Regions from separate parts of the Homo sapiens genome. Here regions 2, 3 and 4 are each linked to region 1. The links come from fine-mapping of genetic effects on gene expression. A gene starts in region 1. Each other region holds a variant in brackets. All regions are shown on one strand. Distances are between the middles of the regions.

Evidence for each region. PIP is the estimated chance that this variant, and not a neighbour inherited with it, causes the effect. A credible set is the group of variants that fine-mapping cannot tell apart.
Region 2: its variant is the best candidate, but not a certain one, in a credible set for the expression of SLC6A11 in uterus (GTEx, PIP 0.80).
Region 3: its variant is the best candidate, but not a certain one, in a credible set for the expression of SLC6A11 in unexposed skin (GTEx, PIP 0.81).
Region 4: its variant is the best candidate, but not a certain one, in a credible set for the expression of SLC6A11 in esophagus mucosa (GTEx, PIP 0.67).

What each region holds. Positions count from the first base shown.
Region 1 is chr3:10,811,433-10,819,540 of GRCh38, forward strand. It overlaps SLC6A11 (solute carrier family 6 member 11), which reads left to right and starts at 4,796. Exons shown (of 14, transcript NM_014229.3): 1 at 4,796-5,089; 2 at 8,033-8,108. The coding sequence starts at 4,834.
Region 2 is chr3:10,868,039-10,876,146 of GRCh38, forward strand. SLC6A11 (solute carrier family 6 member 11) reads left to right here. Exons shown (of 14, transcript NM_014229.3): 6 at 6,923-7,057. Among named protein-coding and RNA genes, the nearest start is that of SLC6A11, 56 kb to the left of the region's middle. The variant A/G (reference allele first, on the strand shown) is at 4,042.
Region 3 is chr3:10,784,396-10,792,503 of GRCh38, forward strand. No RefSeq gene overlaps it. Among named protein-coding and RNA genes, the nearest start is that of LINC00606, 24 kb to the left of the region's middle. The variant C/T (reference allele first, on the strand shown) is at 4,586.
Region 4 is chr3:10,921,836-10,929,943 of GRCh38, forward strand. SLC6A11 (solute carrier family 6 member 11) reads left to right here. Exons shown (of 14, transcript NM_014229.3): 9 at 4,169-4,281; 10 at 7,367-7,504. LOC105376950 (a long non-coding RNA gene) reads right to left here and starts at 6,890. Exons shown (of 3, transcript XR_940587.3): 1 at 5,022-6,890. The variant T/C (reference allele first, on the strand shown) is at 4,218.

The sequences.
Region 1 (8,108 bases):
TGGCTGGGGTGCATAGGGCTGATCTGTGGCACTTGCAAATTCCCACAGTGTAAATACAACCACCGTGGAAGATTTCAAGACACCAACAATGGCGCCATGCAAAATCCCTGAAAACGCAATAATCAGCTGTCATGAGCTAGTCTGAGCCAGCTCTAGCATACCATTGAGGTGGGCCTTATACTTGGTATTGCTCCCTAGTGACTGATATTGCATCTGGAAAATAATTAAAGAGCCAAAGCAAGGCCGGGCATGGTAGATCACGCCTGTAATTCCAGCACTTTGGGAGGCCAAGGCAGGCAGATCACTTGAGGTCAGGAGTTTGAGACCAGCCTGGCCAACATGGTAAAACCCCATCTTTACTGAAAATCCAAAAAAAAAAAAAAAAAAAAAAAAAAAAAAAAAAAAAAAAAAAAAAGAACCAAAGCATTTGGTGAATGAATGAATGAATGAGCAATGCTGAAGTTTAAATGAGCCTCAGGACAGCAGCTGCTGTTTCCAGAAGATGGAAGACATTGAGTGCTTGCCCCAAGAAAGGAATAAGGGAGTTATGACATTTCTGTCCCCTGAAGACTGCTTATAACAAACATGTCTATATCAGGCACAAATCCAAGTGCTTTACAAATACTAACCCACTTAATCCTCATGACAACTAAAAGGTAGATACTACTACTACCCTGATTTTACAGATAAGGAAATGAAAACTCAGAGACATGAAGTCATTTTCCAAGGTCATTTGGAGTTGGCTTTGAAACCAGGCAGTGTGACTGCAGAACCAACATTCTTACCCACTGTGCTCTGTTGCATCAGGGCCAGCCCTGGGGATAAGATGTGTGTCCCATTTGTGTCCCAATCCCTGTATATCGACCCCACAGACAGTGTGTGCTCTTCAGCCCACTGTCCCTCAACAAAGAAATGATGAAGTGGCAAAGGTCTAGAGATGAGGTCCTGCAATGATGAAGTGGATGTGGGCTCTTCTGGATAAGGACAGAGTAAAAAGATCAAGGCTTTTTAAGGGCCATAAAATAACCAAGGAGATGGACTTTAAATATTTACTTACTAAATTCAAATAGGAAATTGACCTGGCTAACTTTTACAAAGGGAACCATTCAAACCTGAGAGGTGAGTTTGCAACATCAGTATTTGTACAACGTTCTTCCCTGAGTGTGATCTCATTTTGCCTTGATGACCACCCTGGAACATGGGAATAATTGTGCTCATTTGAGTGAAACGAGGACACCAGAGCTTAGAGATTGGGCGATGTATCCAACACCACAGAACCATCCATCAGCAGAACTGGGCCTGGGTCCCAGACCAGATGATGGCCAGCTTCAGCCCTCTCATGCTGGTTCAGTGTTACTTCCCAAGCAGGTCTGGTAGAATCACAGCTGCTCAGAGGAAGTCAATTCCTGGAGCTAATTATGCTGAGCACCAGCACAAAGCGAAAATGTAATTAGTTTCAAAGGAGCTTTGCACAGATTCTGGAGTGACAGCCTAATATTGCAATAGTAAGATTCAGGAATATGTCTAACTTTTTTTTTTTTTTTGAGACGGAGTCTCGCTCTGTAGCCCAGGCTGGAGTGCAGTGGCATGATCTCGGCTCACTGCAAGCTCTGCCTCCTGGGTTCACGCCATTCTCCTGCCTCAGCCTCCCAAGTAGCTGGGACTACAGGTGCCTGCCACCACGCCCAGCTAATTTTTTATATTTTTAGTAGAGATGGGGTTTCACCGTGTTAGCCAGGATGGTCTTGATCTCCTGACCTCGTGATCCGCCTGCCTTGGCCTCCCAAAGTGCTGGGATTACAGGCGTGAGCCACCATGCCTGGCCAGGAATATGTCTAACTTTTGATGTACTTGTTCGTTTAACAAATAGACTCCTAGCTACTTATGTGCCTACTCTGTGTAAGATCATTGAGGTCAAAGAAAAATTCCTTCCTTTATTGCCCATTCTATACACAGCATTGAGGATCATCAAAAAGAAAATAAAAATAACGAAGTCTTAGTGTGGGAGAAAAATGGCATTCAAAAATGGTAGAAGGAAAGGCTGGGACAATTTGATTGAGGGGGAATTTTGAATATTAGGGCCAGGAATTTGGTTTTATCCTGTAGGAAAAGGAAGTCCAATGAAGGTTTTTTTGTTTGTTTTTGCAGTCAAGGTCTTGTGCCATAGTCCAGATTGGAATGCAGTGACATGATCATGGCTCACTGCAGCTTAGAACTCCTGGGGGAGTTCAAGCTTATACCATCCTCCTGCCTCAGCCTCCTGAGTAGTTGGGACTGTAGGTGTGCACTACCACGTCTGGCTAAGTATTTTTTTTTTTTTAATTTTAAAGATAGGGTCTTGCTATGTTGGCCTCCCATTAGGGCTTTTAAGCAAGGGAATGAACTAACCATCCTCCTCCTCCTCACAATAAAAACAATAGCTACTGGCCAGGTTGTTGGCCTCCCATTAGGGCTTTTAAGCAAGGGAATGAACTAACCATCCTCCTCCTCCTCACAATAAAAACAATAGCTACTGGCCAGGTGTGGTGGCTCACGCTTGTAATCCTAGCACTTTGGGAAGCTGAGGCGGGCAGATCACCTGAGGTCAGGAGTTCAAGACCAGCCTGGCCAACATGGTGAAACCCCATCTCTACTAAAAATACAAAAATTAGCTGGGTGTGGTGGTGGGCACCTGTAATCCCAGCTACTCGGGAGGCTGAGGCTGGAGAATCGCTTGAACCTGGGAGGTGGAGGTTGCAGTGAGCCAAGATTGTGCCATTGCACCTCCAGCCTGGGTGACAGAGTGAGACTCCATCTTTTAAAAAATAATAATAAACAACAATAATAGCTACTGTTCACAGAGCTCCTACTGAGGCTTTTAACCCACACACCCACCCTGTGAGGTCAGAACTCATGTGAAGCCCACTTAACAGGTGAGAAGCATGAGGCAAAGAGGTAACAGAGCACCTAAGGGGCAGAGCTTGAATGCAAAGCCACATCCATCTGAATTCAGTATAGTCTCACCCTGAACACCGCAGGATCTTTGCTTTTAAACATAACCTAGGCAGCACATGGGGACAGAGGTTTGGGAGGCACCCACATTTAGTTCAGTGGTTCAAGATATGAGAAAGGCTGAATTTAAGGAGAGAGAAAGGAGAACCAGAGAAGCAGGGAGAGAAATGGTAGCTGCGCCAGGCAATGCCAAGAAAACCACACCAGTGGGAATTTTAAGAAGCAAAGGAGGGAGCAATGGTGCAGAAAGTTACCTAGAGGCCAGGCAGGATAGGGATGGAAAAGGAACCGTAGAATTTGCCAAATTGAGAGGGCGTCCGGGACTTCACAGCATTTTCAGAGGAGTGGTGGGGGTGGGTGCCAGATTGCTGTGGGCCAAGGAACGTGTGGGAGGTAAAGACAGGGCTGGCAGCCTGTCAACTTACTCTTTCAAGAAATATGATAGTGGGGGGAGGGGAAACGGGAAGATGGTGGAAGGAAGGGCTTTCTGGGGAGATGGAGGTTGGGAGCGACTTGAGCAGTTGTGAGCCAGAATGAAAGGAGAAGCGGAAGGCAGGAGTTTGAAGGCTTCAAAGCAAGGAGCCTGTCCCTAAGAGAGCTCCAGAGGGAGCTCCGAGGGACAGATGGAGAGTAGGGTTGGTGGGGGCTCAATGTGGCTGGACTTTTCCAGGCCTGTGCAATGGAAGAGGTGGAAGTGTTCATCTCTGTGGCCCCCAGCAGCTTAATAGTCTTTCCTTCTTCCCCTTTTCCTCTTCCTACCTTCCTCCCTTCCTCTCTAGCCACAAACATTTATTGAGCACATACTATGCACCAAGTCTTGTGCTAGGTTATGTTGCTATTATAATGAACAGGACAGTGTATATCATCCTTACAACTAAGTGAGGAGACAAATATTATACAAGAAGATGGACAAATGTGTGTAGGTCTACATATTGTATAATACTAACAATGGGTAATGTTCATTGGGCACTTTCAAGGTATCAAGACCTTTATAAGCATTTCTTAATAACCTTTTACCTAAAAATCCATCCCCTACATTAAAACTTACAAGATACTACTGATATTACCTTTTGCAGATCAGGAAACTGAGGCACAGAGGGATCAGATGACTGGCCAAAATCACACAACTTAGATTCACCTGTTTCCAGACGCAAGCACTTAACTGCCACACGGTCCTGACTATGTTGAGAGCTGCGGACACCAGTATGAACAAGACCTGCAGAGTGTCTAGGGCTGGGAAGAAGCCACGAATTCATTTACTGCCTTTTCCTCAAGGTGTGGTCCCTGGACCAGACATATCAGCGTCCCTGGGGAGGTAGTCAGACACGCAGGCTCTTCAGCCTACTGCGACCTACTAGACCGTGATGTGTAGTTTAAACAAGACCCGCAGGTGTCTGGTGTGTAGTTCAAGTTGGAGAAGTCTGGTCTAGAGCCCATTCCTCTTATTAGAAACAGGAAACCGAGGCCCAAGCATTTGAAGGTTATGGACGGTGGTAGAACTTTGGGGTTTGGTGAGTGGAGCCGGCCTAGGCCGGAATGGGCGCTTCCACTCTTGGCCCAGCAGGCCAGTGGGCAGGGCCGCGGGAAGGACGGGCGCTGCAGGGGCTCCGCGCGCTCAAGGTGCTCGCGGGCTCCCGGGCCCAGCCGGGCTGAGGTGGCGTGGGCGCCCTGCGGGCCGGGCCTCCGCGGCGCGTCCCAGTCCCAGTCTCCGCGCTGGTCTGGCCCGGTCCCTCAGCTCCACCCCCTGCCTCCCCCTCCCGCCCGCTCGCGCCTCCTGAAAAGCCAGCTCGCCCGGGGCGGCGGCGCAGAGCCGGGCCGGCGCACGAGGCAGCCAGCGCGGCCATGACGGCGGAGAAGGCGCTGCCCCTGGGCAATGGGAAGGCTGCTGAGGAGGCGCGGGAGTCCGAGGCGCCGGGTGGCGGCTGCAGCAGCGGGGGCGCGGCGCCCGCGCGCCACCCGCGCGTCAAGCGCGACAAGGCGGTCCACGAGCGCGGCCACTGGAACAACAAGGTGGAGTTCGTGCTGAGCGTGGCCGGGGAGATCATTGGGCTGGGCAACGTGTGGCGCTTCCCCTACCTGTGCTACAAGAACGGAGGAGGTGAGGTGATAGTGAGGAGAAGGGGAGGGGGCGCCAACCGCCCGGTGGGGGCGGGGAGCCAGGGGCGAGCGCGAGACCCCCTCCCGCGCCTGCGTGGAGCGGAACCCGAGCGGAGAACCTCGACTCCAGGCACCTCGCGTGTGAGCTCGCCCCGGAGCGCGGCCCACCTGTGCCAGTGCGCACGCGCACGTGCCAATTCGCACCTGAGGGTTCCACCTGCCAGCGCGGGGACTTGCCCGCGTTCTGTCCCCAGCATGAGATGCAGACCGAGGCCAGGGAGCCCTTGCTTTGGGTAGGCGCCCTGGTGTTTCGGGCACTTGGCCCCTTGGAGCCTCAGCTTTCCTAACTGGGAAAACGGCCTGTGGGGAAGGGACTCCTGATGATCAAAGTGGTCTCAGTTTTTGCGCGCTTACTGAAGTGCCGAGCACCTTTGACCATATCATCTCATCTCATCCTCTCAGTCACTTTCGTAGGCAGGGGTCTACCCATTTTGCAGGTGAGGACACTGAGGGTCAGAGAAGTCTCACTCGACCAAAAATAAAGATGAGATTCTGATGTCAAAGGCCCTATTTTAAACTGGGACTGGACTCACAACAGGGAGAACTTTTAGGCGAGGCATTGCTCTATGGTTTCCTGCCTAGTCTTTCGTCTGCTCTTAAGCCCATTTCTAGGGCCAATATTTGGGGCCCCTCTGGTGGAAGAATTGACAACGAACAGTTTATTTTACGGGTCTGAGAGTCACCCACGACAAACAGCAATACTGGTTTAATGTTGATGCTCTGCATAGAGATGTAGAAGGGGAGAGGGAAAGGACAGTGATGAGAGAGTCCTTTCTGGTGACAGCCTCTCAAAGTCAGTTTGGCAAAAGATGCAGCAGCGAATCCGTAACTCTCCCAGCTCAGGGAAGGGGCTCCAGCCTTCAGGACCCCCTCCTGTCATATCGGCAGGACAGCTGGGCGGGTCCATGGCAAGGGATCTTATAAAACCTCCTTCGGTGGCACAATTTCTCGAAGGAAGAGCCTGTATCTGTATATTCTCTCTTCTCTTTGCTGTGCCCCTGCCCCTCCAGCAAATTCCCAAACCCCAGCGAAGGTGGCTCAGAAGTTGGCTGGCAGGGACCGGGCTATGAGTCTGTGCAGAGCAGGACTTCCTGTGCGAGCAGCTGCCGGGAGAGGGAGAAGGGTACTGCTTGGCCCAGGCCCTTTCTTTGGGGACATTCATCCTGAAGGCACAGGCTGCTCCAAGCCTGCTCTGCACTGGTAATGAAGTGGCCGCTGGTGTTGGCGGCTTGGCAAGGGAGAGAGAGGGAGTGGACTTGGAGACCCCCAACGTGCCCTGTGCTCTCGGCTGTGAATCCTGCCTCTCTGCAGATACAGCGTTTGTAAGCTGCGTCCACTTGGAAACCTGTGCACACCTAGGGTAGTCCCCAGGCACAAATTGTTTTAACATCTTTTTTTTCCATACAGGAAATTGTTGTGCCAAAACAAAAAGCATTCATAAAAGCAGAAAACACGGTAAATTGGGTTAATTACAAATTCTGTCACAGATTTTTTTTTTTTTTTTTAAAAAAAAAGGTTGTAGTGAGTAAAGTTTTTTAAATGAGTCATTTTTTTTTTCTGACTAGCCAAGAGTTTTCTTGAGATTCATAGATCTCCTGGTTTGGTAGAGTTTATTGTCCTAAGGGTTAGTAGCTTTGTGAATACACAGGTCAAAAGGCTTTCTGAAAGTGTCATACGTTAGATTCTAGAGGTTTCACAGGTAAATAACAGCATGTTAGGGGACCTGCTGCAGCTGATTTTAATCACTTAGATTTCGATTCAGTAAACAGATCCTCTTATCTCCTTTTCCACACTTTTTGCTTTCTAATGTAGTTGGGATATCTGCTTCTCAACTGTTTACCTTTTTAAAAACATCCTTACTGCCCTCCTTTGAGATCCCAACAATAAAGTATTTCTTTCCCAATATGAAACTTTAAATTAGCTGCTTGCCCAGAAAAGCTAAGACCCTTTCAAACCCTGATAGATATGATCCTGCTATCAGGATTCATCAAAATTGTTGCTATTAATCCTTACGGTTAAGGAGACTTCATTTGGCAAAAAGCACTTTCAGTTAAAGCCGTCATTTGTGAGATCAGATGGTGGCAAATAGCATGTGTTTTCATGCTTCGTTATTAGACAGGAGGGACAGAATGAGGGATTTGGAAAAATCCCCATTCTGGGTGTAATAGTTCATGCTCACCTCAGTTATTTAATTTTTTTCACAGAAAGGCCCAGGAAATGGGTATTGTGTTTCAAGACAGGAACACTAATGCTTAGTGGTGGTCTTTTCCTGGACCAATTCAAAGCCAGCCTTTGCTAGATAGATTCTTGTTGCAAACTCCTTGCAAGTTGACACCACACCTGGGCCTCATGTGTAGGGGTACTTAATTCTTTGAGGCTTAATATTGTTCATTGTATAATTCCCTGAGAATGCTCTTCTTTATGACAAAGATTGTTTGCAAGTCACTTCCAAAGTAAAAGGAAGGGGTGCCCCTCACCTGGTCTGTTGAGGTCACTTTAAAATGAAAAAGGGTGCAACATTCAGGGAGGGAATGAATTTGACCCACGCTGGAGGATGAAATGTAAAAAATTTTTTTTAAATGAGCCAATGAAACAATTTCTTTTACATTATCATCTTAGCTGCATTACAGTTCTATGAGGGAAGCAGTGCAGATATTAAAAACTAAAGCTCCATTTTACAGATGGAGAAGTTGAGACTTGGAGATGTGAGGTAGACTTACAGAAACCTAGCGCTGTTTTCTGACTCTGGTCTTCATAATGGGAACTTGAACTCAAGTTCAAAGAACATCATGTCTGGCCTGTAGTAGATGTTTATTAAAGAGTTCTTGAGCCAAGTATGAATCGGCAGGGACAGTTTTCATTTCATTCCTTTGCATCCTTACAGGGGCATTCCTGATTCCCTACGTGGTGTTTTTTATTTGCTGTGGAATTCCTGTTTTTTTCCTGGAGACAGCTCTGGG
Region 2 (8,108 bases), 57 kb after region 1:
AGTAAATAATACAAAGGTGCTATGTGTATATGGCCAAAAAATACTGGGAAGATGCTATGAATGATTGAAGTTTGGATTAGTCTATCCTTGCCTCTTCGTAGATGGTAAATGCCAGCCCAGAGAGGGTATGGAACTGGCCCCAGCTGCCCAGCACATTGGATCTTCTGATTTTGTGGTCCTAGGTTCTTGCCCCACACTGCCCTGCTTTTTTGGATGCCTTTTGAACAAGACTTGGCTTTCCAATTGACTCCATTATCCTGGAAATCTTAGGGTGGGGTGGCCCTTCTACAATGTTTGTGGCATTCCAAATGATCAGACAATCTCCTTGCTCTGAAATAAATGGCCGTGTCCTGGGCGTAGGGGGAAAACCACCCCACAATCCCAGTATTGGGATGTAAATGAGCAATTAGCGTCAATTAAAACAGGATACAGTATAATTACCACCAATTGTGCTAACCTTTATATTCAGAAAGCCTTGACCTGTGAAAAGGGAATTAAACAATAGTGAAAACTCTTAACCAAGGGGTGTGTTTTGGGCAGTGATGCCTCCTTTCATGGACTGAGGGTTCTGACAGATTAGACCCTCCTTTCTCCACGCCCACCCTTCTGGGTCTGGGCCACTACTGGCAGTGGCCAGGAACAGCCAGGCTTGATGGTACCTTGTCAGAGACCTTATTAGGCCCATCACCAAATGCTGCATAGTTCAGCATAATGCCTGAACCCTGCTGTGGCCTCTTGCCTCTTCCAGACAAATTCTAGGGCCTCAGACATCTTGAAAGGGACACTTTGTTAGGAAGCACCTTGCACCTGAACTGTCCTGCCCTCTGTATATGACCTGGTCTGTCTTTTAAAGCCAAATCCTTTGTGATGTCCTTGTTTATAAATATGCCTCTGAAAATCTGATTCAATTTTCTGAATCCCCTTTTATGTGGACCCAGCATCACATATGGATGCAGCACAAAGCAGTGTTCCTAATGACCTGCATTGTAACCTCAGAGTTCCAGATCTCAGCCTGCTTCTTTATTCCTCTGTCCAACAAATATGTATTGAGCACACCTTATGTGCTATATACACTGTCCTGGGTGCTGTGGATGCAGCAGGGAAAATAAAAGACCAAACCCTTATATTGTAAAAATCTTAAACTTACAAGGCAAGAAAATTGCTGATGGAGAGCAGCTTTAGGTGCTGGGAGGATGCGGGAATGACAGGGGTGATGAATGTGGGATGGGGCTCAGGGAGGACGGGGCAATTCATCCTCTCAGCAACATCTGGGCAGACAGTGTGGTTTATGAGGCTAAGAGGGTGGCTTCTGTAGCGAGACAGACATTTTAAATGGACCACTCTGAGCCTCGTCTTCCAGACCTTTAAGATAGAAAGGACAATGAGTTCTCAACTGGAGGGCAGGGCCCTGACTTGGAGGAATCCTCTGCCTGTGGGGACTCAGACACACACAGGACAAACGTCTTGGGTGGCCGAGGAGCTGGGGATGGACTCTGTGGACAAAGAGAGACTGAGAAAAGGCAAGGAGGCCTAAGAGGCCTGGCACGTTCCCCAATAGCAGGGAACCTGGTAGTCTGGGGAAGGGTGGAGACTGGCCAAGTCACACGGCAAGCCCAGGCAGAGCCAGGACTGGACCAGCGTTATCCGACTCTAAGCCCAACCCTTTCATCATATCCCACAACCTTGAATGCGAGGCTGAGGAGGTTAGACTCAGGAACAGGGAAGAGACATGCAGGATTATTATTTTTGTAACTGCAGCTGCAGTATGGACAGTATAGGCTGTCAGTGACCAAGAAGAAAGGTGATGAATGGCACCAGCAATGGCGGTAAAAAGGGGGTGTAACTTCAGAAGGTAGTTGGAGATCTAGTTGGCAAGACTTGATCACTGATTGAATGTGGGGGAAGCTGAGAAGAGAGGTGAACCTAACTCTGAGCATACCTGAGTGACAACCTGGAGGTTCCTGAATATATGAGGGGGCAGACAATACCCTCTGCCTATTTCTGCGTCCTTGGCTAGTTCCACATCTTCCCTGCCTGATCCAACCTCTCCTATTCCTGCTTATCTTTGGGGACCAAGCTCCAGCCCATGTTCACAGACAGGAGAAGGCTGGATCCCTTCCCGGAGACCCTGGAAGCACCTTCCCAACCTGTCTCCATAGCCTCCTTTTCTTGTGTGACCCTCATTGTGTGGTGTCATGATCCCAGGAGTTTCATTCCTAGATGCTCATGTGCATAAATTCCTTCCTCAAGGACTAGACCTAGGTCTTACCATTCTGTTGACCTGCAGGAGAGTCTGAGAAAGCATAAATGAAACATGGACTAGACCAAGGGTAGCAGATAGAGGGGTTTCATCCCAGCTGATTATGGCTGGCTGCCTGGAGTGCTGTGCGGAGGGTTCTGAGGCTGCATCCAAGCTTAGCTGCAAAGAATGCTGTGATCTATTAGTGATGTCTGGCAAGGCACAAGAGGGAAGAGTGGCAGTATGTGTGTCACTTATGTGCAGTCTCTTGATGACAAGAATCTGTATGGTTTTGACAATGCACAGCTGTTCTCAGGAAAAGTGAAAGATGATGTCCAAGTGTCTGGCATGGCCAAGGGTAGAAACAGATTAGAAGTAGCTTTTACAGAGCCACTTTTTAAAGTGGCTTTAAAAGAGCTATAGACACAGGCTATCCTCAGCATTGAATTTCAACCTTCATACCAATCTCCACTTGTGTGCCTTACATAATGATGCCTCTAAGCCACCTTTTGTACCCTGACTCAAGGCTCTCAAACCTCAGCTTACAAATGATTTTTTCTGGGCTAATGCCTGCCAGCCAGTGGTTTCATTTTGGCAGCCTAACTCTTTGTCTGCACTGTGGTCTTTGGGCAATTCATTTGAATATTTTATTTCCCTTGATTTCTTTTCCCTTGGTTTATGGTTTTATAAAAGAAGTATAAAAATGAAGGTGTGAATAGCAGTGGAGGGAATGTAGTTCTCCTAAATATAATGTAGAAGTAGAGCATCGATTCAGAACTCTAAACAATGGAATTGCTTCAAAATTATCATCAGCCACATAATAAACCATGTCACTGTAGTAACTGAGGAGCAGTCTTCTGTACATGGTGCCTGGGAACTGTGAGGCTACATTTGGCCAGGTTTTAAGTGACCCTCTTAATGACACCCCACTGGCTCAGTCTACCCAGTGGAAACTGGACATAGCATAACCAGCAAGCATAATCACATCAAAGTGGCCCCACAGGTGAAGGACAAATTTTTATGATTTTTGAGTTGTTCTTATGTTTTACATGGTAAGGTTCTTTTCCTTAAATTTTGCAAGCATTGGGAATTAAGATAGCTGAGTTCCAAATATTATGTATCTGGAACACTTCAGCTCCTGGACATTCTGGATAATTAATCTTCTGCCACACAACAGAGACAAAAGTGGAAATTACTAAATGAAAGCAATGGGTTATTAGCCTCAACCTGATGTTTTATAGACTTAAGCTGATTGGCTTTGGTTGGGGGGGAGGGGGTGATTTTGAAGGAAATGAATCAAGAATGTATATGAAATGCCGAAGATCTATCATAGATGCTGTGTATAAAGCTAAGTGAAACTGGAGATTTTATAGCACTTTTAGCTCTCTGCAGAAACCATCAAGCCTTATTGATTACTGGCCTCTTATTTTTATTAATATTAATATTGATTTCTGCTCTTTTATATTTGATCTGCACCTTTTCTGGATTACATTGCATATGATAGCAAGAGATTGTGTTGATTACTTGACATGTCGATTGAGCTGATGGTTGATTTGGAAACAGGGATGCAGAAATTGGTGGTGCAGGGGCCATGAGTGGGCTGGGGAGGTTACCATCATTGCAGAACAGAGACATTGTCTGAATAAAATAGTCCAGCCTTTCAGGTTATGTCCACAGGACCCACTATCACCAACCTTTGCTGGTTCTAATTTCCTATTTTTGAGGACTGGGTTTAAAATCTCTGCTTTGTCATTTACAAATGGAATGACTTGACTCTTCTGAAAATCTCATCTCTAAAATGG[A/G]AAAATAACACAGAGTCTGCATGGCTGTCGTGAGGGTTGCAGATTGCATACATAGGTAGCCTGGTGGTTGAATGTGTGACCCTGGAGTCAGGCAGGACTTGCTATGACCCCCATGTCTGGTTGTCGTTCATTCACTGGGCAATCCTGGGCAAGTTATGAGTAACTTCTCTGGCCTTTGTCATGTGTAAAAAGAAGATAATCATGCCTACTCATTCTTGTTGAATGTTTCATGTGTGGAAGTGCTAAGTAAATGCAGCCATTGTTATTATCATGTGTAAAGGGCTGGGCATGGAGTGAGGATGTCTTTTTCCCGTCTTCCTTCCATCCCCATTTTCCAAGTAATGAATTCCTTATCATCCTTTATGGGCTGACACTTCTTTGGAGAAGCCCTTCTGGACTGCTCTTGCAGTGAGGGACTCACTCTGTCTGTGCTCTTCCATTCTTTTTGCTCCCCTGATGACATGAGGCATGACCTCCTGTCTATAAGTCTTTCTTTACTACCAACTGGAAGTCGCTTGAAGCAGAAATTTCCCTCCTGTGATTCAGTCTTATTTTTACCTTCCAGGACCTAGCTCAGTTCTTAGTACATGAGAGTGTTTGAGTGAGTGAGTGAGTAGGTGAATGAACTGAGTCAATAAAGGAATACATGAATGAACAAATGGGTGGAGGACTGAAGCACTGGTCAAAGAAACCCTGGGTTGAACAGGAGCGAGAGGCTAACTTAGAAAGCTGGAAGTCTCAGGGCATAGACTCTTTATCTGGGAAATTGGAGTCTCTGAACCAAAGCTTGCATGCGTATCTGCATCTGAGCACATTTGGAGGGAAGGTCCTCAGATTCTCAGAAGTGTCCCTGGACCCCAAATGTTGACAAGTTGCTGATCTGAACAGACGGAGGAGGCAGGCCCCACTGAGAGGACAGAACCAAGTGATTGGAGGAGTGAGTGTGACAAAAGAGAAAAGTCAGAACTTGCAGGACACTGACTCCTGCAGGGACCTCAGTTAAGGGGTGTGGCCGGTGCCACAAGCAGCCCCTGGGACGGGAACTCCTACAGTCCCTGCGGGCCTTGATGCCTCCTTCTAGGCCGCTCTTGTGCGAGGAAGCTCAGAGGAGGTTTGTGTCTTTCACTGTCTTGATTCTTATCCAGAATCTGCTAGCTAAAAGGGTCTCTCGGGTTCATTGGGTCCAATCGCCTGCCTCCAAATGGACCAAGCCCAAATGGTTCCAGGCAGGCACTGAGTTTTTTCTGCCCCCAAAGATTTCTGCCCTTTTCTTCCTTTCCCTCCCCTATGCTCACCTTCATTATTGTATCCTATCCTATGCTATCCTATCCTATCCTATCCTATCCTATCCTATCCTATCCTATCCTATCCTATGGCATGCTATCCTACCCTACCCTACCATACCCTACCCTATGCTATCCTATCCTATCCTATGCCATGCCATCCTATCCTGTCCTATCCTATCCTATCCTACCCTACCCTACCCTACCCTACCCTACCCTACGCTATCCTATCCTATCCTATCCTATGCCATGCTATCCTATCCTATCCTGTCCTGTCCTGTCCTGTCCATCTATCCCGTCCTATCCTATCCTATCCTATCCCGTCCCATCCTATCCTATCCTATCCTATCCTATCCTATCCTATCCTATCCCGTCCCGTCCCATGCTATCCTGTCCTGTCCTGTCCTGTCCTGTCCTGTCCTATCCTATCCTATCCTATCCTATGCTATCCTATCCTATCCTATCCTATAGTATGCTCTGCTCTGCTATGCTATGCTACCCTATCCTATGCTATGTTATCCTATGCTACTCTATGCTATCCTATGCTATGCTATGCTACACTATCCTATGTTATGCTATGCTATCCTATGCTATGCTACGCTATGCTATGCTACGCTACGCTACGCTACGCTATGCTATGCTATGCTATGCTATACCATCCTATCCTATCCTACGTTAGTCTAGCCTATACTATCCTGTGCTATCCTAGTCTCTCTTTAACTATGCATACTTAACTTTCAGTAAGAGCTGTGGCTTTAAAAATGTGGGTATTGACCCAACAGTGAATTCTAAAGTGGATTTAGAAGATCATGGCCAGCTTATTTAAAAAAAGAATACAATAGAAAATATTAGCATGTATCACACATGTGTTATGTTGTGAAACTTCTTTTTCAGCTCTATGTGTGCTGGATTGTGATGTATATTTCTTTCTGTGTTGTGGTCAAAAAAATTCAACAAGCACCACTCTCAAGCACATCACGGGCACTCAGTAGACAGCACTGAGAGACCTAGCCTGTGATGAGGTATGAGGCAGGAGGACAGGCCGTGTTAGGGGTTACTTCTTGTTGCTGCACCAGGAAGCCCTTCTTTCCTTTACCCCCTCTGTGGCCCACTCCTATCACCCCTGCTTCCTTTTCCTTTTTAATTTTATTTATTGTGGTAAGAACACTTAACATGAGATCTGCCCTCTTAACATATTTGTAAGTATCCAATGCATTGTTGTTGACTGTAGGTGCAATACTGTCCAGCAGGTCTCTAGAGCTGATACATCTCACTACTGAAACTGTATACCTCCTGATTAGTGATGCCCCATTTCCCCCCTCCCAGTTCCCCACAACTGCCATCCCACTCTTTGATTCTATGAATTTGACTCTTTTAGGTACCTCACATGAGTGGAGTCATGCAGTATTTGTCCTTCTGTGATTGGCTTGTACAGATGAATGGATCAAGCAAATGTGGTCTATACACGCGGGGGAATGCTGGTCAGCCTTGGGAGAGAGGGTCCTGGTGCAACATGCACCCAAAGGACATTGTGCTGAGTGAAGTAACCCCATTGCTCTCACCCCCTTCTTGATTCTGTCCTCTCCTCTTGTGCACAGGTTGTATACGTGACTGCGACATTCCCCTACATCATGCTGCTGATCCTCCTGATACGAGGGGTCACGTTGCCCGGGGCCTCAGAGGGCATCAAGTTCTACTTGTACCCTGACCTCTCCCGGCTCTCCGACCCCCAGGTAAGAGTCGCTTGCTCAATGTGCAGCATCACCCACCACCACTGGGAAGCCTTCTGCAGAGCCCCTGCCACTGGCCACTGAGATTCAACAGCTGGTTGAACAGTGGAAAGCCTGTGGACTCTTTCCCAGAATAATTTTAAATGCATAAATTTAATACGTAGGAAATCAAATATTTTGAAATACCGTTACCAAAACATTTTAAAAAGGCAAATTTGTGACATGGTAATAGATGCACATTTTAAAACGAGGACATTACATAGCCAGATCCAGCAGCAAGTCTGATGACTACTGTGATTTTAAAGCAGCAATGAGCATAAGTGACATTTCAAGATAGCTACACCATGATATGAAAATATCTTCTATTGCTAACAGGACTGCAGTTCATTGCCTGCATCTAAAATTGAAACAAATACTAAATTTCAGTTAGAAGTTAATTAAAAATTAAAAAAAAATTACTGCCCCAAATCACAGATCTCTGCAGTAGTGCATCTTGGTGAGAGAAACTGGGTCTTTGTTCATGATTGATTTTCTTTGTGGGAGTAGCTCGTAGTAAAAAAAGAGTTGGAGAAACTGGCTAAGCTATCAGTTGTCTTTGGTAAGGCATTGGTTGTTCTGAATGGTGGGCAGTAATTGTGCCTAAGGTTCTCTTAGTGGGTACATGGTGGTGTGCCCTGGAATACGTTAAACAGATAAAAACAGAACATCTCACAAGCCTGGTGGTTCTCAACCTCAGCTACACGTCAGAAACTCTTGGGGAGCTTTTGAAAACCCTAATTCCCAGAGCATAACCCAGACCAATTAAAATGAACTCTCTGGGTGTGGGTTGCAGGTGTCAGTATCTTTTAAAGGACTCTAGGTCATTCTAGTGTGTGAAATAACTTAATCAAAGACATTTGAGCAGGCAAGCAGGCACTCATTTTTCTGTTAAAACACAGAACACATGGAATCAGTACAGTTTCCAAATAGGAAATGAGGCTTGCAAGAAGTTTCAAGTCTGCGATCTGTGGCTTCCAGCCACCTCCTGTTAGGGGAGCTTGTGGGGGAAGCGTTT
Region 3 (8,108 bases), 27 kb before region 1:
AGAAAACACGGAGAGAGAAAGGAAAACAAGGAGAAACCACAGCAGGGAAAGGGAGGATTGTGGCCACCAGGCGAGAAGTCACCTGCAGGCCCTAATACCTCAGTAGTGACCCAGGACCAATGAGTGGGTAAAATTGCTGCCCTGACATTTGCCCTGTTCCAGCCAAAGATGGCTCACTCCGTGACCCTGAGAACTTAGGACAGTCCCTGCTTCCTAAATGAGAGGGTTGCGCAGGCTGCTGGGCAGAGTGCCCTCTGTTAGGAGGTGAGTTTAGCTGAGGGACTCATGGCTTGGCCTGCACTTGTTTCTGAACCTGACCTTGCTAGCATCACCCTCAGATCCTAGAGAATTATTTTCTGACATGCACTATTTTAACAGCACCCAGGAAATTCTTGGCCTGAGTATTTGGGGTGATTGGCGGAAGTGATTTCTAGACTGGTTCTTTACCAACCAAAAGGTCAACTCTCCTGATCACTCCTGGTAGTGTGAACATGTACAACAGTTTTCCTTGGAAGTTGAGAGACTTCTAGCAACCTATATTTTCCATTCTATCTTAGCACAGAAGATAGGCTTAGCAAAGGAATGCCTCAGGCACTCTAAAATATATCCCCACCCTGCTGGAAACCAACAACAACCTTTAAGCATACGCTTAACAACAAGTGAAATGTTGTCACACACTCCTGTAATATTTTCCCCCAAAATGTTGAGATGACTTTTCTGGACTTGCCTATTGGCCACAGTTGTGTGTTGATAAGCTAGAGCAAGCTCTCTGGTTCAGGAAACTTAACAGGGAGCTGATGTTCATGCTATCATGCTGAAAGGGGCATGTTATGCCATCATCCCTTGAAAAACACAACTTGCTGAAACAAAAACAGAAATAGTGAATCTGAGCAGTCCTATATTCTTTTTCTTTTTTTATTTTAAAGACAACTCTTCCTACACTTTAGAAAATGCCAATCTTACATTGTCTTTTCCAGAAAACAAAGAGGGAACATTTCCTGCCTTTTTATTTTGAGACAAGCATACACCTGATACCCAAAACTGACAAAGATATTACCAGCAAAGACCATTATAGGCCAATATTTATCTTGAATACAGATGCAAAATCAGAAACAAAATATTAGCAAATTTATATACAGTGATATATATAAAAGGATAACAGCATAACTGAGTGAGGTTTAATTTAAAAATGCAAGAGCGACTTAACATTCAAATATCAATGTATTTTACCATACTAACAGAAAAAAATCTCAAGAGATTTAGAAAAAAAAGCCCTTGAGAAAATTAACACCTATTCATGATAAAAATCTCTCAGCATTAGGAATAGAAAGGAACTTCTTTAAACAGATAATGCATGTGTACAAGATATCCACACCTAACATGATGAAATGTTGCATTTAATAATGAAATATTGTACTTTTTCCCCTGTGGTTGGGAATAATGTAAGGATGTTCATAACCTTGCTCCCAACCTCAGGGCCAAAGCAAATAATTAGAATAAATAAGTGAAATTTTCAAGGTCACTAGATACAAAATCAATACAAAAAATTAATAAATGTAAAATAATTTAAATTATGTAAATCACATTCTTAAATCACAATGGAATTAAATTATAAATCAATATGGAAAGAATATGGAAAATTCCAAAATATTAAAATACTAAGCAACAAAGTTCTAATTAAGCTATGGGTCAAAGGAGAAATTACAAGGAAAATTAGAAAATATTTTGAACTGAATGAAAATAAAAACACAACATATCAAAATGTGTGAGTTGCAGCTAAAACAGTGCTTAAATAAAATTTTATACTAATAAATTTATACTAATGTGCTAATTTTATAATAAGTATAACATTTATACTTAAAAAAGAAGACAGGTTCTATGACCTAGCTTCTAGCTTAATAACCTAGAATAAGAACATAAATGCAAATAAAAAATAAACAGAAAAAAGATAAAGTTAAAAAGATCAACGAAATAGAAAACAGAAAAATAATAAATAATAAAGGCAATCAAAATCCCTTTTTAAGATCAACAAAAGTGATGAACCTCAAGCCAGATTAATCAAAAAAATTAAAGAAGAGAAGAGATAAATTAATACAGAAATGAGAGAGGGGACATCACTACAGATCCTATTGATAGTAAAGTTATTAGAGGAATATTATATACAATCATATACCAATACATTTAACAACTTAGATCAAGTGGAAAATTTCTTGAAAGACACAAATTACCAAAGCTTACTGAAGAATAAATTTATATCCTAAATAGCCCTGTGCCTATTAAATAACTTGAATTTGTAGTTAAAATCCTTCCCACAAAGAAAACTCCAGACCCAGATGGCTTTACTGGTAAATTCTATGAGGCATTTAAGAAAGATAATACCAATTCTATACAAACTCTTCCAGAAAATTGAATAGAAAGGATCACTTCCCAAAAAATTACATGAGGTCAGCATTAACTCAACAGCAAAATTGAAGACATTACAAGAAGAAAAAGAAGGAGGAGGAAGAGGAGAAAAACTACAGATTAGTATCTTTCATAAACATCCTTATAAAAGTATAAAATTTTAATAAATCATAACTATAATATATAAAAAGATTATGACCAAGTAAAGTTTATTCCAAGAATGTAAGGTTGGTTTTACAACTAAAAATAAATTAATTCACCATACTTAAAGACTAAAAGAGACCAAAAAAGAGTGCAAGCATATAATCATCTCAATAGATGCAAAAAATAAGAAATTAAAAAATTGACATAATTCAACAACCATTTATGACAGAAACTATGAATAGAAAGAAACTTCTTCAACTTGATAAAGATGATCTATAAAAACCTAGCTAACATCATCATACTTAGTGGCGAAAGACTAATTTCCCCACTAAGATCAGAACAGGGGCAAGGATGTGCAGTCCCTCTATTTCTATTCCACTTTATACTGGAAGTTCTAGCCAGTACAAAAAGGCAATAAAAAGAAACGTACAGTTTGAAAAGGAAGAAGTACAACTCTACTTATTTGCATGCCAACATTCTATCTTTGTAGAAAATCCTTAGGACTATACAAAAAAATACTAGAACTAATCAATGAGTTTAAAAAGATTACAGGATACAAAGCTAACATACAACAATTAATTATACTTTTATATACCAGCAAGAAACAATTTGGAATTGAAATTTTTTTTAAAAAACTTAACAATAACATCAAAAAATATGAAATACTTTGTGATAGATTTGAAAAAACTGATACACAAGTCGTGTACATCAAAAACTACAAAACACTGCTGAGACAAATTAAGTAGATGGAGAAATACATGATATTCATGAACTGGAAAACAAAATATTGTTAAGATGCCAATTCTTCCCAAATTGTTCTAAAGATATAATCTATCCCAGTCAAAACCCAAGAAGGATTTTTTTGGAGAAATTTGACAAATTTATTATAAAAGTCATATGGAAATCAGAGGACCTAGAATACCCAAAGTAATTTTGAAAAAGAATAAAGTTGGATGACTTAGCCTATCTGATTTCAAGACTTATTATGACTCACACTGTAATCGAGGCAGTGTGGTATTGGCAAAAGATACAACTTCAATGGAACAGAAGAGAAAAATCCAAAAATAGACCCTCAGATGTATGGTCAATTGATTTTCAATGAAGGTGCTAAGGAAGTTCAATGGGGGAAAGGATATCTTTTCAACATATAGTCCTTGAACAATTGAATATTCAAAAGCAAAAATTGAACCCATGTTCTTACCATATTACTCTATGTATAGGCATTAACTCAAAATGGATAATAGACTTATATGTAAAAGCTAAAACTATAAATCACTAGAAGAAACGGTGAAAGAAAACCTTAGTGACCTTGGATTTGGCAAAGATTTATTTAAAAGGACATAGAAGGCACACACTATAAAGGGGAAAAAATAGGCTAATTGGACTCTTTCAAAATTTAAAACTGTTGCTCCTCAATGGATACTATTAGAAAAATGAAAAGGCATGCTACAGACTGGGAGAAAATATTAGCAAAATATACATCCAACAAAGGACTTGCATCTACAACCCAATTAGAGATAGCCAAGAGGTTTGAATTGACACTTCACCAAAGATATTCTAGTAGCAAATAAGTGTATGAAAAGGTGCTCAACATCATTAGTCATTGGGGAAATGCAATTTCATACCACCATGAGATAGATATCACTATGCAGCCAATAGAATGACTAAAATTAAGACTGACCACTCCAAATGTTAGCAAGGATATGAGGCAACTGGAAATTTCACTCTGCTAGTGAGAGTGCAAAACGACATAGTCACTCTGGAAAAGAGATTGCAGTTTCTTAAACTGTTAAACATACCTCTATGACCCTAGTCATCTCATTCCTAGGTATTTTTACCCAAGACAAGAGAAATGAAAGTAAATATCCACTGTAAGTCTTATGCATGAATGTTCATAGCTGCTTTATTTTTAACAGCCCCAGTGTGGAAATAGTTAAAATGTTCATCAGCACATGAATGGATAAGTGAATTGTGTTATATCTGAACACTCAGCAACAACTATTGATACATGAAGCAACATAAGGGATAGGAGTGTGGA[C/T]AGCAAAGTGGCACAAGGAAACCTCTGGGGATGATGCACGTCTGCATTATCTTGATTGTGTGACGTTTCATAGTGTGTTATGTTCCTCGAAATTCCCCAGCTGTATACTTCAGTCATGTGCAGTTCTTTTGTACCTTAATTATACATTAATTAAGCTGTAAAAATTAATTGTATTCTATTTTACAGCTTAATTATACCTTAAGCTGTAAAAATTAATTGTATTCATCTGTATTTTTATATATTAAGCAACAAGCACTGGGAAGATGAAATTTTAAAAATACCATTTGTAAGAGCACCAAAAATGTCAAATACCTGAAAATAAATCGAATAAAAGATGTGCAATCCCTCTGCATTGAAAGTTAGAAAACATGACTGGGAGAAATTAAAGAGAACATACAAAAATGGAAAGATATTCCGTGTTAATGATAGGAAGACTCAATATTTTCAAGATGTCAATCATCCTCTGAGTGATCTACAGATTCAGCACAATTGCAATCAAAATCCCCAGTGGGTTGAAGGGGTGGAAATTGAGAAATTATTTTTAAAATGTATATGGAAATGCAAAATATCTAGGATAGTTAGGATAATGTTAAAGAATAAGACAAAGTTTGGTGGACTTATGTTACTAGATTTTAAGACCTAGTAAAAAAACTACAGTAGTTAAGACAGTGTGGTATTGGCACAAGAATGAACAAATAGACTGATGGAACAGAGGGTCTTGAAGAGAACCACATGTATATGGTTACACAAGTGTCACTGTAATTAAGTCAAGAAAGGATGTTTTTTCAATAAAGGCTGCTAGCGTAATTAGATATCCACATAGAAAAAAATAATCTTGCCTCCTAGCTCATAACATACACAAAAGTCAATTCCAGATGGTTCACATTCTAAATATGAAAGGCAAAACAATATAACTTTTAGAGGAAAACATAAGAGAAAATATATACACCCCTGAGTATGCAAAGATTTCTTAAACTGAAAAAAAGCACAAAACTTGAAAAAAATGATGAATTGCATTTCATTATAAGTAATTAAAATATTGGAAAGGAAAGACACACAGTGGGAGAAGATATTTGTGTTACATATATCCGATGAAACTCATACTCAGAATTTAATAAGAATTCGTATAAAAAGTAAATTTATTTATTTATTTATTTTTAGTATTTTTTTTTTTTTTTTTTTTGAGACAGAGTCTCGCTCTGTCGCCCAGGCTGGAGTGCAGTGGCGCGATCTCGGCTCACTGCAAGCTCCGCCTCCCGGGTTCACGCCATTCTCCTGCCTCACGCCATTCTCCTGCCTCAGCCTCCCAAGTAGCTGGGACTACAGGCACCTGCCACCATGCCCGGCTAATTTTTTGTATTTTTAGTAGAGACGGGGTTTCACCGTGTTAGCCAGGATGGTCTTGATCTCCTGACCTTGTGATCCGCCTGCCTCGGCCTCCTAAAGTGCTGGGATTACAGGCATGAGCCACCGCGCCCAGCCAAAAAGTAAATTTAAAAGGCAAACATCGAGACCATCCTGGCTAACACGGTGAAACCCCATCTCTACTAAAAATGCAAAAAATTAGCCGGGCGTTGTGGCCGGTGCCTGTAGTCCCAGCTGCTTGGGAGGCTGAGGCAGGAGAATGGCATGAACCTGGGAGGTGGAGCTTGCAGTGAGCCGAGATCACGCCACTGCACTCCAGCCTGGGGGACAGAGAGAGACTCTGTCTCAAAAAAAAAAAAAAGGCAAACAGCCCAATGGAAAAATGGACAGGCAACCTCAACAAGCATTCCACAAAGGGTAATATCTAAATGGTCAATAGACATATGAAATGTGCTAAATGTCATTACCCTCAGATAAATATAAAAAGGTAAATTAAAAACCCAAAACAATACTGTTACACACCCAGGAGAATGACTAAAATGGAAAAGGCAGACAACACCAAGTGTTGACAAGAACAAGGAGCAAATGGAACTCTCCTACATTACTGTTAGGTGTTGACATATAACCATTGTGAAAACTCTAGCAGAATTGACTAAACTGAGCATACATATACTCCATGATTTAACATTTCTGCTTCTTGGGTATATACCCAACAGAAATGTGTGCATGCGTTCACTGAAAGACACATAGAAATATTCACAGTAGCACTTGCACTATCAGCCAAAACCAGAAATGATTCAAATGGCCATCAAACTACAGAATAAATAAATGGCAGTATCTTCACGTCATGGAAACAAACAAAACCATAACTACGTGGAGGAAGCTCAACCATGTGGTTATAATGTTGAGAAAAAGAGCCAGATACCAAAGAGTACATATGGTAGGATTCCATTTACATAAAGCTCATACCCAGGGAAGAGTAATCTACAATGTTGGAACTCAAGGTAGTAGCCACTCTCAGGAGCGGTAGTGACTGAGAGGATATGTGAAGGGGGCTCCGGGTGCTGGCCCTGCTCCATGACTTAATCTGGGTTCTGGTTATGAAGGTGTGTTCACCCTGTGAAAATTCACCCAGCTGTACCACTGTGATCCTACACTTTTCTTATATATGTATGTCACACTTAAAAAACAAAAAGATTGGCTTGGCTTACTGTGGAAAGTGCTGTGATGGAAAACAACAGAGTGCTGGAGAGAGAATCTGGCTGGGTTGGTCAGTCAGGGAGGGCTCCTTGGAGGAAGGGATGTTTGGCTGAGAGCTGGAGAGTGAGGAGGAGCCTGCTATGAGAAAAGCAACGGGGAAGAGCTTCCAAGGCAGTGGGGAACAGATGGACAAAGGCAGGAAGGCTGGGATGTGAGTGAAGCAATGATGTGCAGGAAGCTGGCTTGTGCCATCAGTGAGAGCCAGTTCTGAGCATCTGGCGCCAACTGTGTTCAGTGAGGTCACCATGGTGGCTTGGAATATGCAAATAATGTGGGAAATCAGCAAATTCTATCAATCTGGATTTTTTTTTTCTCAGAAAACCACCAGCTGTACAGCAATGACCATAGCTTGGCAGACCTGCCGTGATTGGTCATTTGACTGTCTTTAAAATTCACTCTGTTACATCCTTGGCTTTCTTCTCTCTCCTGCTAGAAAAAAAAAAAAGTTTCTTTGGATGCAACCAAAGAGAACCTCTGGCATCGGCCTGTCCGTTATTTACCCTTAGTTGTTAATTCTTTTTCTTTTGTGTAAAATTAAAGTCGGCAAACTGCAGCCCTTGTGTCAAATTTGGTCCTTGGCCTGCTTTTGTAAAGAGTTTTGTTTGTTTTTCATATTGTCTATGGTTGCTTTTGCATTACAACAGTGGAGCTGAGTTGCTGCCACAGAAATCTTATGGATGGCAAAGCCTAAAATATTTGCTATTGGTCCTTTAAGGAAACCATTTGCCCACCCCTGTAGCTTGGCAATAGTCATCCAATCCCATGCACCCTTGTGGCCAGTATTTTCTGCACCCACGTCAAACACCCAGTGCAGCATGCTGCTAGTGCATTCCCTTCCAGAGGTACACCCTACCAATCCCCTGCTGGTTAAATGTTTAACTTTTGGGCTGTCTCTGCT
Region 4 (8,108 bases), 110 kb after region 1:
GTGGACAAAGTAAACTTCAAGTCAAAAAATATTAGCAGAGATAAAGAGGAACACCTCATATTGATAAAAGGGGCAATTCATTGAGAAGACATAACAATCCTAATGAGTTTGTACCTGAAAGCAGAGATTTGTTATATAGGGAGCTAAAACTGATAGAACTGGAGGGGAAAACAGACAAATCCACAAGCATAGTTGGAGATTTTAACACCCCTCTTTAACTAATGATAGAACAATTATATGAAATGTCAATAAAGACATAGAGATCTGAACAATACTATCAACCACAATGACTTCATTGATATTTATCAAACAGTGCACTCAGTGCCTGCAGAGCACAATTCTTTTCCAGTGGACATGGAACATTCACCAAGATAGACCATATACTATGCCATAAAACAAGCATCAATGTATTTCATGAAATTGAGACCCATTAATATAATGCACCATGTTAATAGATCTAACAAAAAAACATAAGATTAGCTTCATCAATGCTTAAAAAGCCTTTAACAAGATTTGACACCCATTTACAATATAAAATAATCAAGAAAATAGAAATTGAGGAGTACTTTTTGAAATGGTGTGTGTGTGTAAAAGTTTTTAAAAAGCAGATATCTATAGTATCCTACCCATTATGTGAAAAAAGAAGGGGAGAAGAGAAAATATGTCTACTCATTTGTGCAAAAGAAATACAGAAAGGATTAACTAGAAACAAACAAGGATGGTTACCTTCAGGGGTGGTCGGAAAAGGGGTGGAAAGAAGGGAGGAATGGGAATGAGGGAGGAAGAATGAGAAGGAAGCAGTGCTTCCCTGAATATATCATTTTTTTTATTAGCTCTGAGTCTTGGTAATGTTTCACATACCACTCAAACAATGATTTTTTTGTGGTGGAACCCTAAATGGAATACAAACAGTAACAAATGAACCTAACTGTACTACAAATGAAAACTGTCACCATGCTAAAGGGAATGGGGAAGGAAAAACTAACCTATGTAACTTTGAGAAACAGCATCTTGACTGGATATTTTAAGGCTAAAGACAAAAATAACGATACTGTGCTCCAGTTAGTACAGGGGTAGCAATTCCACAACTGTTGTAAGTGTGTATATTAGGATTGAACAAATAGGTAAATATTTTATAGATAATTAGTCAGATTTTTCACTGAGAAAGAAGTTATAAATAAGGAAAGGAGAGATGCTAGAATGTCTTTTATTGGAATTGGAAGTATCAATATATTAAAATTCATGGTTTTCATCTATGTACAGATAGATATAGAAATATTCATGTGTATATGCATGGATAAATATACATATATTTCCTATCTTTGTGTGCTGAGAGGGCCTAAAAGCAATAATACTCCACAGTTATGAGCACACCTAGGGCTCAGATCTTGGTTTCTAAACACTATTCTTCAATTAAAAAAAAAAAAAACACAGGGCTCCTTGGCAAAACAGTTGATTTCCGGGCTAGGGCAAGACAAGGTGAAGCTAGAACATTTTTGTGATGCCAAAAAATAAGGAAGTGCTCAGAAAGAAAGGTTTGAGGCTTGTCAAAAAGCCATGGAAATCAACCTGAAGGAACTCCCAATGGTTAAAACTGAAATAACTTGAACAGCAAAATAAATGATAGTATTGGATTTTAACCCATAGAATAAACTACTCAGGAGTCCACATTCACATATATAAATAATTGAATAAATAAATGGTGTGAAAGGACAGCTATTCCTTGGAGAAGAATTATAATTAATAAATATAGAAGGAATGAGGGAAATATCAAATCACCATTAGGCAAACACCATTGTAATCATGGTTGCAGGCAAGACCCACCAATGGATACTAAAATCAGTAGGTAAAAGTTGGAGTAGAAACAGGATTTTTTCATAATCTCAAAATATTTCCTCCTGCAGGAGCGTTAACAATTACAAAGAGAAAAAGAGTAATGTTATAGTGGAGAAACCTAGCAGACAACAGTTTAACCTTAACCTTAAGTGATCAAGGTAAACATCACCAGTAATAATATTGATTGACATGTACCCCCGATATAATACACCAGAAAGGATATAACATCACTGCTGTGGTTTTCTAGCCAAAAGATGCACAACCTCACCATAAGTCATGAGGAAACATCAGACCAACCCACATCAAGAGACATTCTGCAAAACAACAACCAGAACTCATCAAAAATGTTGAGTTTAGCAAAGACCAAAAAAAGACTAAGGGACTGCCACAGACTGGAGAAGACTAAAGAGATACAACCAATAAACGCAATGTGGAGTTCTGAATTAAATGTTGGAACAGAAAAAAAGGGGGCAAAAGGAGAAAAACTGGCAGAATATGAATAAGCTCTGTGGCGTAATTAATGGTATTATACCAATATTAATTTACCAGTTATTAAATATTGAAAGTGTTCCCCTAAAATCAGAAACAAAGCAAGGATGTATGCTGTCTCTGCCTCTATACCATATGGCAATGAAGTTCCTAGAGAGTGCAATAAGGCAAGAACAAGAAAAATAATTAGAGGGAAGAATAAAAATTTTCTTGATAAACATACTGACCGAGTCAAAAATCCTAAGGAACCTACAAAAAAAGTAATAAGTGAACTTAGAGAGGTCAAAGGACAAAATAGATAAAATATATTATACTTCTTTACATGCTAGCAGGAGACAATTGGAAAGTTTTTAACTTCTGCTCTTCACAAGACGCCATTAAGAAAATGGAAAGGCAAGCCACAGACTGGGAGAAAATATTTGTAATAACTCCTCTGACAAAGGATTTACATCCTAAACATATAAAGAACGCTCACAATCAAATAAAAAGAAAACAACCTAATGAAAAAAAAAGGACCAAAAAATCAAGCCATCACTTCACAAAAGAAGACATATGAATAGACAATAAACATGTGAAGATACTCGATGTCATTAACTATCAGGGAAATGCAAATGAAAACTATGATATAACATCTCACTCCCACTGTAATGACACATCTTAAAAGACTGACAATATCAAGTGTTGACAAGGATGTGGAGCCACTGGAAATTGGAAACATTGCTGGTAGGACTGTAAAATGGCAAAGCTACTTTGAAAATCAGTTTGGAATTTCTTAGAACGTTAAACATATGATTGCCATATGACCCAGCAATTCCACTTCTAGGTAGAATAGGCAAAACTAGTCCGAGGACGAAAAAAAATTGAATTGATGGTTGCCCAACGTGAAGAGGAGGAACGGAGGCGAAGAGACAGCAAGGGGCCTCAAGGGGCCAATGGCAGTGTTCTATAGCTTGATTGCCATGGCTTGATTGTCGTGGTGGTTATCTGGGTGTATACACTTTTTAAAACTTCATCAAACTATGTATGTAAATTATACCTTAATGAAGCTGCTCTTTAAAGTAAAAAATCATCAGATTTCATGTCTATTAAGCATTTACCTGCTTCAGTGCTTTCCATTTATTGTGTCATCTCACTGAATTCTCAAAACCACTTTTTTTAGATAGGACTTTATTATCCCCATATTTCAGCTAAGAAAACAGATTTGAGCCCAGGCCACCTGGCTACAGAGCCTGTGCTGTTGACCACTGTGCCACAGGGCTAGCCTCTCAGGTATCTGTCTGCTGACATTGATAAAGTTCATCCCGAGGACACGTTAACCCAGCCTTCTATGTGCAGCAACTAAAACAAGGGAGTGTAGACCTGGAAATGAGAGTGGAAACCAGAGGAAGAGGCTGCCAGGGTGGAAGAGCATTTCTCCAGCCTGGACCCGACCTACGTACACCACAACCACTGGGTACCTGGTCCTTGCCTCCCCCTGGGCAGACAGAGTCAGAATCGCTGGGTAGGCCTGAGAATCTGCATTTTAACAAGAAACTGCACCTTCCCCCTTGAGAACAGTAGAGACATGTCCAGAGGAAGGTCCATGGATCAGCTGAACCTAGGCTTGAATCCTGACCCTTCCAAGGCCCTTGTTTACCTCTTTCTGCCTCAACTTGCTCATCTGCAAAATGGGCATCAGAATAGCACCAAACGCATGGGGTGGCTGGGAAACAGAAGTGATTTGAGTGAGAGGCAGGCACAGTGCCTGGCGCAGAGGAGGCACTCAGTAAATGCTGGATTAAAATAGCAATGATATGAGGGATGGGACTCCACCCAGTGGCTTTCTCTCTCTCCCTCGCTCCAGGCCCCGGCCTGGCCTTTATTGCGTACCCCAAGGCGGTCACCATGATGCC[T/C]CTCTCCCCGCTGTGGGCCACCTTGTTCTTCATGATGCTCATCTTCCTGGGCCTGGACAGCCAGGTAAGGGGCCATGGGGATGGGGAGCCCAGGAGGGAGGGGAGCCTGGGCCAGGAGGCCAGACGCCACCCTTAGGAGTGGCTCCCCAGGCCCAGCCACTCCCACCTGGCCCTGGCATCAGGGCCCTGCCCACCGTCCCCCATTCCACCCTCCACTTCCCTCCCAGCAACTCTTGCACCCCCGCCATCCACCAGGTGGGCTCTACACTTACCCACAAATGTCTGTTCCGGCCCCTCTAAGCCTTCCCAAACACTGTTTTCCTTACCGGAATTCCCAACTCTCAATTCACATTTAGAAAAATTTGCTAAATACTTCCCTTCTGCTCAACCACTCCTGCCAACAGCACTGCCTGGCACAGCAGAAGAGAGTCTCAGAGAGTGAGTTCCACAGCATGCATGTCCCCATCCCAACCCAATCATTGAGGACACGGACACATAGAAAAGCACCTCCTCTTCCTCCATCTCTGTCCTGGATGCCACCACCAGCTCTGCCCCGCCACCGCCTGCCTGTCTCTGTGCTCGGCCCTCCCTAGAGGCCCCTTGCCAACCTCCCCCTGCTTGGCAGCCTCCTTCCCTGGCGAAGGGGGTAGACCTGGAGCTAGTAACTCACCCATGCACTCGGTTTCCCTTTGTTGCCACACAGCACGCAGGCGCTCGCTTCCCGCACTGAGCACACTCCAGACTCCCATCCCAGGTCCCCGGCCTCTTTCCCAGACCATTCCCCCAACAGTCCCTGAAACCCACCCTTTGCCTGCTGGTCCTCACAGCTGTTTTCCCTAGGAGCCCTGGAGAACTTCCCCCAGCCACAGCCTCCCCGCCTCGGAGACTGGGGTCTCTTGGCCAACCAGTGCTGTGCTGTGCAGGGGCCTCTGCAGGCAAAGCAGTCAGACCCCCAGGGAGACACACCCAGCCCAGCCTGTGGGAGTGCCGCCCTCACCCATGACCTTCTGCCAGTTGAGTCACTTGGCACCCAAGCCCCACAGCCAGTATATCTGTCAAGCCAGCCAAGTCCAATTCAATTTCTTCCTCTGATCGGTTTCCCAGAAGCTGCTAAGCCAAATCACCGGGTGTTTCTGCTGATAATCTTCCCTTATTGTTGCTGTTGCGGGCAGAGGTCTCGGAGGGATTGGCAGCTTATGCGTGACAGGCCAGGCCTGCCTGGCAGAGGGAGGCAGGGGCTGGGGCCCCGGCTCGGCGAGTCCCTGGGCTGAGCTAAACCAGCAGTTGGGCCTGGGGGCCCGAGGTCTGGCACAAAAAGTGGCGGCCACTCTGCCTATCCCCATGCGTGCTGCCCTTGCTGTGTGCCTTGGATATATTCTCAGTTCATTGTCACAATAACCACACGGGCTGGGGGCTCCTTTCATTGTCTGCATTTTATAGAAGAAGAAACTGAGGTTCAGAGATACTGAGTGACTTGCTCGGTCGTGTACCCGGGCCCGTCTGCCTCTTGGCCTACACACTGCAGTGTCTCATCAGTTTCAATCCTGGATAAACAACCTCCTTTGCATCCCATCCTCTTCCCTAGGACCTGGAGAAAGGATAGACAGAGCCAGCCCTTGCTGCTGAGGCGGAGCAGCTGCGAGGCCATAGCCTGGGCTTGAGTCCCAGCCCCATGACTTGCCAGCTGTGTGCCTTGGGCTAGTCACCTCGCCTCTCTGTGCCTCATTCCCTTTGTCTGCACAAGGAGTATTGAAACACCTTTTCTGGGGAGGCAGAGGTGAATCAGAAAGGATTTGGAGCCGACAAATAGCTCCAGGGAAGGGGTGCTTCCCAAAAAGGTGGCTGGCAAAATAACCCTTAACTCCTCCTCCCTCCCTCAAGGCAGGGCAGTGGGGTGGGTAAAGCCCAGCTCTGGAGCAAGATCACCTCGTTCAAATCCAGGCTTTGCCACTTATCGCCTGGGTGACCTTGGGTAAATTGCTTACTCCCTCCTCTGTGCTTCTGTGTCTTCATTTACAAAATGGGAATAATAATAGTACAGACCATGTAGAGACTACATAAGTTAATGTATGCCAACTGCCTAAAACAGCCTGGCACATCGCAGGTATGATATGTTTGCTATTATTCGTGTTATTATTATTAATTTAGCAAACATTTCCTGAGCCTCTCCCTCCTCTGTGCCAGGGGCCCTGAGCTAGACACAGGAAATAGACAGATGACAATGATGTGGCCCCTTCCCTCCAGGATCCCACCTGCTTGTAAGGAGACAGATATAAGCAGGAAAGGGCCCCCAGGGTGAGGGGTGTGCTCAGGGCGCAGAGGAGAGGGATGGGCTGTCCTGAGTGGGGGACAAGAGTGATCAGGAAAAGGTTCATGCAGATCTGCCCCCAGTGCCATAAGAACCAGGTGAGGGGGTGGTCGGTATCTTAGGATATTCAGGCTGGCTGTTAATGGGTGGGTAGGAACTGGGCAGATACCTTGTACCTGGCCCTGTGCTTAGCACACGGGATACAGATGCTTAGTGGCTCAGACTCAGCCACTGATGCCTGCATCGTTTGGCTGGGGCCCAAAGACACCCAGCAGAGACAAAGAGCTGGAAGTTGGCTCACCTCTGATTGCCCTCCACCAGCAGAGGGGCCTCATCTGCCAGAAAGAAAGGGCAGGGAAGCGTCCCAACCCCGGAGACCACAGAGACAGACCAGAGCCTGCCATCAGCAGAGCACGTAACTCCCACTACAGGCACAGAAATCCCAGCCTTGCCTCAAGGGCAGGGGCTGGTCTCATTTAAGTTGTCGACCCCAGCACAGAGCCCAGCATGTAGGCATGTGACAGGCAGCATGCGGGAGAAGGAGGAGTACTAGATTTGGAGTCTGGAGACACCAGCTCAAGTCCTGACTGCCACGTCCTTGCTGAATAATCCTGGGCAGGTCACTCCCCACCTCTGAGCCTCAGCGTCGTCATCTGTTAAATGGGCATGACTGGAGCTCCGCTAGTGCTGGGATGACTGTTATCCTCAGGCCCCTCGTCTGCATTAATGGGTGTGGGAATGAAGGAAGCCCAGGGTTCAGGCCTGCTGCGCTTGCCCAGAGCCTGGGCCACCAGGAGCAGCCTTGTCCTTGAGTTTCACACCATCATATCTCCCCATCCAGTTTGTGTGTGTGGAAAGCCTGGTGACCGCCGTGGTGGACATGTACCCCAAGGTTTTCCGGAGGGGTTACCGGCGGGAGCTGCTCATCCTAGCCTTGTCTGTTATCTCCTATTTTCTGGGCCTCGTGATGTTAACAGAGGTGAGTGGCATGGTTCGGGCCGCACGGGGTGAAGTGGGTGTGTGACGTCAACTCCCAGCTCTAAAAGTGACCAGCTGTGTGACCCGGGTCAGGTCTAGTGCCCTCTGCCACTCGGTTTATGCTTCCTCCTAGCGGGTCATGGTGAGGATCTAATGGAAGTTCTCATCAGGCCCTCAGCACAGTGTCTTCATGTGCAAGTGCTCAGCTAAAGGCCGCGGCTGTTATTCACAGAGGGGAGTCACACTCACCAGGGGAACGCTGGGTTGATCTGTCATGGTGAGCACATGGACTCCTGGGCCATCCCTAAGAATAACTTCTGGGTGAAGCAACAACGTCAGCTACTGGCCCCTACAGCATTTACCTATGAGTGGTCTCACGTTCAAAGCAGGCTTTTCTGGGCATCTCTGAGAAGAGGCTCCCATGATGATATTGGCACCTTTGGGCACCATGTGCACCAGCCTGGGACTTCTATGCGTGCCCCTCTTCTCATTGTCCCTGCTGGGCTTGCAGGTTAGGAGAGGTTCTCCATGACCTCCAAATTAAGACCATCTGATAAAACCATATTTTTCTCCCCCACCTCCCATAGCCATCCTGTCAAATAAAT